Regions from separate parts of the Homo sapiens genome. Here region 2 is reported to be linked to region 1. Evidence: microRNA targets listed by miRTarBase, many of them from high-throughput screens and not tested one by one. Region 1 holds a microRNA gene; the other region holds the end of a gene's coding sequence.
The links. The annotated mature microRNA hsa-miR-764 reads GCAGGUGCUCACUUGUCCUCCU and lies in region 1 at 1,052-1,073, opposite strand. An mRNA with a match to its seed (bases 2 to 7 or 8) in the 3' UTR can be bound and repressed. Matches are read on the target gene's strand: a 7mer-m8 pairs with bases 2 to 8, a 7mer-A1 pairs with bases 2 to 7 and ends in A, and an 8mer does both.

Region 2: miRTarBase lists LTAP1 as a target of hsa-miR-764. Seed matches in the 3' UTR shown: 8mer at 1,364-1,371.

What each region holds. Positions count from the first base shown.
Region 1 is chrX:114,637,101-114,640,517 of GRCh38, reverse strand. It overlaps MIR764 (microRNA 764), which reads right to left and starts at 1,083; the gene lies at 999-1,083. All of the region lies in intron 2 of HTR2C (5-hydroxytryptamine receptor 2C), which reads right to left.
Region 2 is chr1:154,204,786-154,208,202 of GRCh38, reverse strand. LTAP1 (lipid transport auxiliary protein 1) reads left to right here. Exons shown (of 7, transcript NM_001098616.3): 7 at 555-1,483. The coding sequence ends at 750. It overlaps CFAP141 (cilia and flagella associated protein 141), which reads left to right and starts at 1,870. Exons shown (of 4, transcript NM_001010979.3): 1 at 1,870-1,928; 2 at 2,565-2,605. The coding sequence starts at 1,896.

The DNA.
Region 1 (3,417 bases):
AGATTTGAGTCTTATAAGATCAAAATGTGGATAAATCTCTACCTGCAGTGTGGCAAATGATAAGATGTGATTGGCAAAGTCTTTAATGTTCAACTTCCCAATGGCCCAGCCGTGTACTTTATTCTAACTAGCATTCCGTGTCATATAAGAAGCCTCCCTTATTTCTAATCATTAATCACTCTTAAAGATATATGTGTTTCATTGTTTTCATTTAAAGTGAATGTAAAATACATTTAAGTAGAGATGTAGAGACTGACAATATCCAATTCTACTTTTTATGGTTCGAGGATTCGTTATCATCAGTCAATTGAAGAAAATACTACTTCCAGTATTAGACTGCTAAAATGATTATCATTAAAGATAAATAGATTATGAATGGAAAATACCTTTCATATATTAAGTATTATATAAATATGTGTCGAACAAAAAATGTATGAAAATTTATATTTCAATGATGATTATATTTACTTTGTAATTACTATTATTTCACTATTATAGTATAGCACAATTTCTTCAAATGTCAATTTTGAAAGTTATAAAGTTCTATAAAGCAATCTTACTTCCTGGCTTAACCTTAACCTGTAATATACTTCAAACTCAAGGACAGAAAGATTGTAAAATACAGTAATAATATATTAATCTTCTTACATCTATTCATACTTTTACAAAAATTTTCCAGGCAGCATTACACAAGGTTAAATACAAAGTTAAAAATCAAGAATCTCAGTCCCTTTACCGCTGTTTATTTTTGCCAATGGAGTATATATTTTATCACTGCAACATTATAATCTGTGAACAACACATGGCTTAAACATTATGTTGTGTTGTTTAGAAGAAATGGCCTGAGAAAAGTAGCTTGCATTTCAAAATCTTTAAATTTCAAAACATTACCACTGTGTTCTACCTTGAGGAGTTTAAAATTTCACAGTCCCACTGATCTGAGAGTCCTCAATGCATTGATTACAACCAGCGGGTCCATCTTCTATCCCAACGAAATTAATCATGGTAACAGTTGCCACTATGGCCTCCTCCCTGCATTTTCCAAGCATGGAGGAGGACAAGTGAGCACCTGCCTCCTAGATTTTAGATTGAAAATATCACCCGAACACACCAGGATTCTTTATACTATGGCAGAGTATAACCTTCTGAAAAAGGCCAAGAGTCTCCTAATGAGCACATCCATACATTGATCATGATGTTTTCCTTTAAAAACCAAGTTCCTCCAAGAATTTGTAAATGGAATTTAGCAATATTTACAATTTACTCATCAATAAATGGCATTTGAAATATTTATTTCACATTGTTTTGTCACATAGTTTAAAAATTTGATCAAAATATTTATAGAACTACTTTTTGTAATAGGAGAAGCCCTTTTTCTTTTAATAATAAAAATAATGTGCCAAGTAAAATATTCATTTATGAAACTGCTCAAGCAAAAGTAAAACCAGAAATATTCGAGATCATTAAGGTTATCCATTCTTCTTGTAGAATATTACTGAAACCTACAAAAGTATTACAAGACACATGCACATGTATGTTTATTGCGGCATTATTCACAATAACAGACTTGGAACCAATCCAAATGTCCAACAATGATAGACTGGATTAAGAAAATGTGGCACATATACACCATGGAATACTATGCAGCCATAAAAAATGATGAGTTCATGTCCTTTGTAGGGACATGGATGAAATTGGAAATCATCATTCTCAGTAAACTATCACAAGAACAAAAAACCAAACACTGCATGTTCTCACTCATAGGTGGGAATTGAACAATGAGAACACATGGACACAGGAAGGGGAATATCACACTCTGGGGACTGTGGTGGGGTGGGGGGAGGGGGGAGGGATAGCATTGGGAGATATACCTAATGCTAGATGACGAGCTAGTGGGTGCAGTGCACCAGCATGTCACATGTATACATATGTAACTAACCTGCACAATGTGCACATGTACCCTAAAACTTAAAGTATAATAATAAAAGAAAAAAATAATAAATAAATAAATAAATAAACGTATTACATAATGGTCAAAAACATATTACAAATTATCACTTTAAGAAGGTTTAAAATTGTACAAGGATTCCATTTACAACATATTTGATCTATATGCTTGCTAACCTAAAGATCTTGGTTATATAACATCTCATACCTCTGCATTTCAAAGATGGACAGTGACAGACATTGTTAAATTCCTGTTTGAAGGTATTAAAAATGACAGACTTTGTTTCTAAATTATGAATTTCCACATTATATTGAACTCTCGGGCTATTTTGTTGCTCGCTCTCAATTTGTGTTTACTACATTGTTTGGGGCATGAGTAGGTTTTCACTAGCTCATCTGAGAGGAAACTCCCTGTTTCTGAAATTCTTTAAGTAGGTTTGTTTGGAAAAATCAGCGAAGCATTCTGTTTAACCTGAGTCATTTCTTTCTACATTAAGCAAAGTTGCCTAGTAGTTAGGCAAAGAGCCCAGTCAGTTACCCTGAACCACAATGGATGCAGATCTATTTTCTTATTATTTCTGTCCCTGAAAAGTTTCATAGCTCCTCAGGGAAAAAAGACATACCCACCATCTTGTAGGTCTCAATTAAGCTTCCTTTCTTTTAGGTTTACACTCACTCTCCCTTAGCGAATTTTGCTTTTTTTTCAATTGCAAAAAACGAAGCCTTCCCATTGCCTGTTTAAAACCCAGTTTGCCTTGCTCAATGTCATGGCTTTTCAGGTTTTCTAAGACTGGTTACTCACTCTGCACGTCAGTGTGAGTTTGCATTTTAATTTTCCTTCCTGCACCTGATCCTTTACAATGACTCTGTAAGGTGTCAATAATCTCTGAAAGTTCTGGGATGAGGCACAGAATTTGGATCATGCTCTTATTTTGCCACAGTGGTAATTAAACACTAACACATACCGACACACATACACGATGAGTAGAGGTTTACGTTGTGTTTGCTTCTAGACCCTGAAATAATTGAGCTCATTTTCAAAATAAATAATCTACTTTCAAATTTGGTCTTTATTTTACACATACACTTAGTCAGAGATGTCTGCAGCTTAATATTTCAGCACATTGTCAAGCAATTCCATATGCTTTTTTCTTTTCCTCTTCCTACTTCTCCTTGTTTAGTCAGAAGTTTTCAAAGTTTTGAGTGCTTTATAGATTGAGGGTGTAGAATATTCTAATATGACTGGCAGAATAAAACAAAGACTGATTTATATTTCTCATGCAGTATATTTGAAAAGACAGATTCCCAACCATTTGCTTACAACTCTATTTCCAGCTCCTATTGGTTAGTTTTCAGTTGTTCATATCTCTGATTTAACACTTTTAAAAGTGCCTCTGTATATTTACAGGCTTAAACCTACAAGATTATGTATTTCTGAAAAAAAAATACACTTAAAAAATGTCAACAGAT
Region 2 (3,417 bases), not on the chromosome of region 1:
CAAACTCCCCTGGGCTCAAGCGATCTCTGGCCTCTGCCTCCTGAAGTGCTGGGATTACAGGTATAAGTGACCATGCCCAGCCTCTCTGCTACTTTTTTTTTTTTTGAGATGGAGTCTTGCTCTGTCACCCAGGCTGAAGTGCAGTGGCGCAATCTTGGCTTGCAACCTCTGCCTCCTGGGTTCAAGTGATTCTCTTGCCTCAGCCTCCCGAGTAGCTGGGATTACAGGCACCCGCCACCACTCCCAGCTAATTTTTGTATTTTTAGTAGAGACAGGGTTTCACCATGTTGGCCAGGCTGGTCTCGAACTCCTGACCTCAAACAATCCACCTGCCTGGGCCTCCCAAAGTGCTGGGATTACAGGCGTGAGCCACCGCGCTCAGCCTCTTGTATTTCTAAGCTACTAGATGGGGTTTTAGTAACTAGTTTACAAAATAGGACAGATAGGACACAAATAACTATTTGTGACTATTGCTGCATTTATGGCCTGGGATAAGCCCTGATTTCTTTGATTAGTCCTCATTCTGTCAATGACCTCCCCTCTCTGTTCTTCAGGGTTAAAGCACGAATTGGGAGCTCTCAGCGACATCACCAGTCAGCAGCCAAAGACCTAACTCAGTCCCCTGAGGTCTCCCCAACAACCATCCAGGTGACATACCTCCCCTCCAGTCAGAAGAGTAAACGTGCCAAGCACTTCCTTGAATTGAAGAGCTTTAAGGATAACTATAACACATTGGAGAGTACTCTGTGACGGAGCTGAAGGACTCTTGCCGTAGATTAAGCCAGTCAGTTGCAATGTGCAAGACAGGCTGCTTGCCGGGCCGCCCTCGGAACATCTGGCCCAGCAGGCCCAGACTGTATCCATCCAAGTTCCCGTTGTATCCAGAGTTCTTAGAGCTTGTGTCTAAAGGGTAATTCCCCAACCCTTCCTTATGAGCATTTTTAGAACATTGGCTAAGACTATTTTCCCCCAGTAGCGCTTTTTTCTGGATTTGCATTCAGGTGTTATTCTTAATGTTTCTGTCAAAGCTTCTTAAAAATCTTCACTTGGTTTCAGCCATAGTTCACCTTCCCTGTTCCAGGTTTATTTAATTCCAAAGGTGAGAGTTGGAGTGAGATGTCTTCCATATCTATACCTTTGTGCACAGTTGAATGGGAACTGTTTGGGTTTAGGGCATCTTAGAGTTGATTGATGGAAAAAGCAGACAGGAACTGGTGGGAGGTCAAGTGGGGAAGTTGGTGAATGTGGAATAACTTACCTTTGTGCTCCACTTAAACCAGATGTGTTGCAGCTTTCCTGACATGCAAGGATCTACTTTAATTCCACACTCTCATTAATAAATTGAATAAAAGGGAATGTTTTGGCACCTGATATAATCTGCCAGGCTATGTGACAGTAGGAAGGAATGGTTTCCCCTAACAAGCCCAATGCACTGGTCTGACTTTATAAATTATTTAATAAAATGAACTATTATCAAATAAAACGTATGAATCAGTCCTTTATAGTTGTCTTTTAATAAAACAGGCATTTGATAATGTTATCTGCACATTTCTAACAGGGTATAGGGCATGAGGATTTGCCTCCAGAGAATTGGTGGGACTGTGTGCATACCCTGGACCTACGACCATACACATACTCCTTGGGACCCTAGCACAAGAAATCCTAAAATCAGGACTGTGGCCCTTGCTCATAGATGCCTGTGTCACCAACAGAAGGCTGCAGAACAAGGATTCTCTCAAGGTTTCTGGGGCAACAGGCCAGGTGGCCAATCAACTCCTAGGCCCAGGGTTATTGTTGGAGGTGTAAATGTTACTATGACTACTGAAACCTTGGTTACTGAACTAAACAGAGGAGCCTGTCAGTCTCCTCAGACTGTATCAAGCAAATCTATAGACATGTCTGTGGAAAAGATGACAAAAGTAGAAGAGGTATGCAGAGTTGGAAGGAGGGGCTGGGTTGAAGTTTGATGAAGTTTCCAGATCAATTTACTATAAGTGCATCTTTTACTGGGAAAGGCTTTTGATGTAACAAGGGTATAATGTAGTTAGTAACAGGAGTGGGAGGCTGTGTCTAGTACACAGTAGGTATTCAAATATGTGTTCTATCCAACCCCTGCGTGTTTTCTTTGATCCATTCTGAAAGTAGAGCTTTCCTCTCCCTATTTCCCCCCAGGAAATTGCTTTCTCAAAAAGGTCTATGTGGCTGGGTGCGGTGACTCACGCCTGTAATCCTATCACTTTGGGAGGCTGAGGTGGGCGGATCACCTGAGGTCAGGAGTTCGAGACTAGCCTGACCAACATGGAGAAACCCCATCTCTACTAAAAATACAAAATTAGCCCGGCATGGTGGTGCATTCCTATAATCTCAGCTACTCGGAGGCTGAGGCAGGAGAATCGCTTGAACCCGGGAGGCGGAGATTGCGGTGAGCCGAGATCACGCCACTGCACTCTGGCCTGGGCAACAAGAGCAAAACTCTGTCTCAAAAAAAAAAAAGGTCTATGTCTCTCATTAGAATAGAGGTTCTGGAGACTGAGGCAGATCAACAGAACTACCTTTTCTTGCAGAGTTTTCAAAAGGCCATGGGACTTAAGAAGACGGTCGACAGGTAATCTGCTTCTATCCCCTCCCTTTACCTTTGAGCTTGACCTTTCCACTCTGCTGTCTTCCCTGAGCCACCTCCCAACTCTGCTGCATCTCTTTAGGGGCTCATCAAGAGGAAAACAGATGCGGAAGGGGTGAGAAGCAGCCTTGTCCTCAAAGCAAATGAGATCAGCCTCTTAGTGCCTACTAGGTTAGGTGATATAGATTGGTTTTTATTGTCCCCTGCCTCATTCTCTGGAGAAAAATTGAAGCATGTTTTTATTTTCTTTTTTTATCAAGAATTCAAGTATTTGTTGCCTGGCTTTGTACTAATTATGTGGTTGGTAGTGCAGTATTTGTTGAACCAGTGAATGAGAAGATTCACAAGACTGGGCTACGTATCCTTTTCACCCTGATGAACTTTTGAAAAAACTGATGCAGCCGGGCGCGGTGGCTCACGCCTGTAATCCTAGCACTTTGGGAGGCTGAGGCAGGAGGATTGCCTGAGCTCAGGAGTTCAAGACCAGCCTAGGCAACATGGTGAAACCCTGTCTCTACTAAAATACAAAAGAAGTTAGCCAGGCATGGTAGTGTGCGCCTGTAGTCCCAGCTACTCGGGAGGCTGAGGCAGGAGAATTGCTTGAACTTAGGATGCGGAGGGTGCAGTGAGCCAAGATCGCACCACTGCACTCCAGCACTCCAGCCTGGGTGACAGAGCAAGACTCCGTCTCTACAAAAAAAAAAAAAAAAACACTGATGCAAGCCTGGCATGGTGGTTCACACCTATAATCCCAGCACCTTGGGAGGCCGAGGCAGGGGGATTGCTTGAGCCCAGGA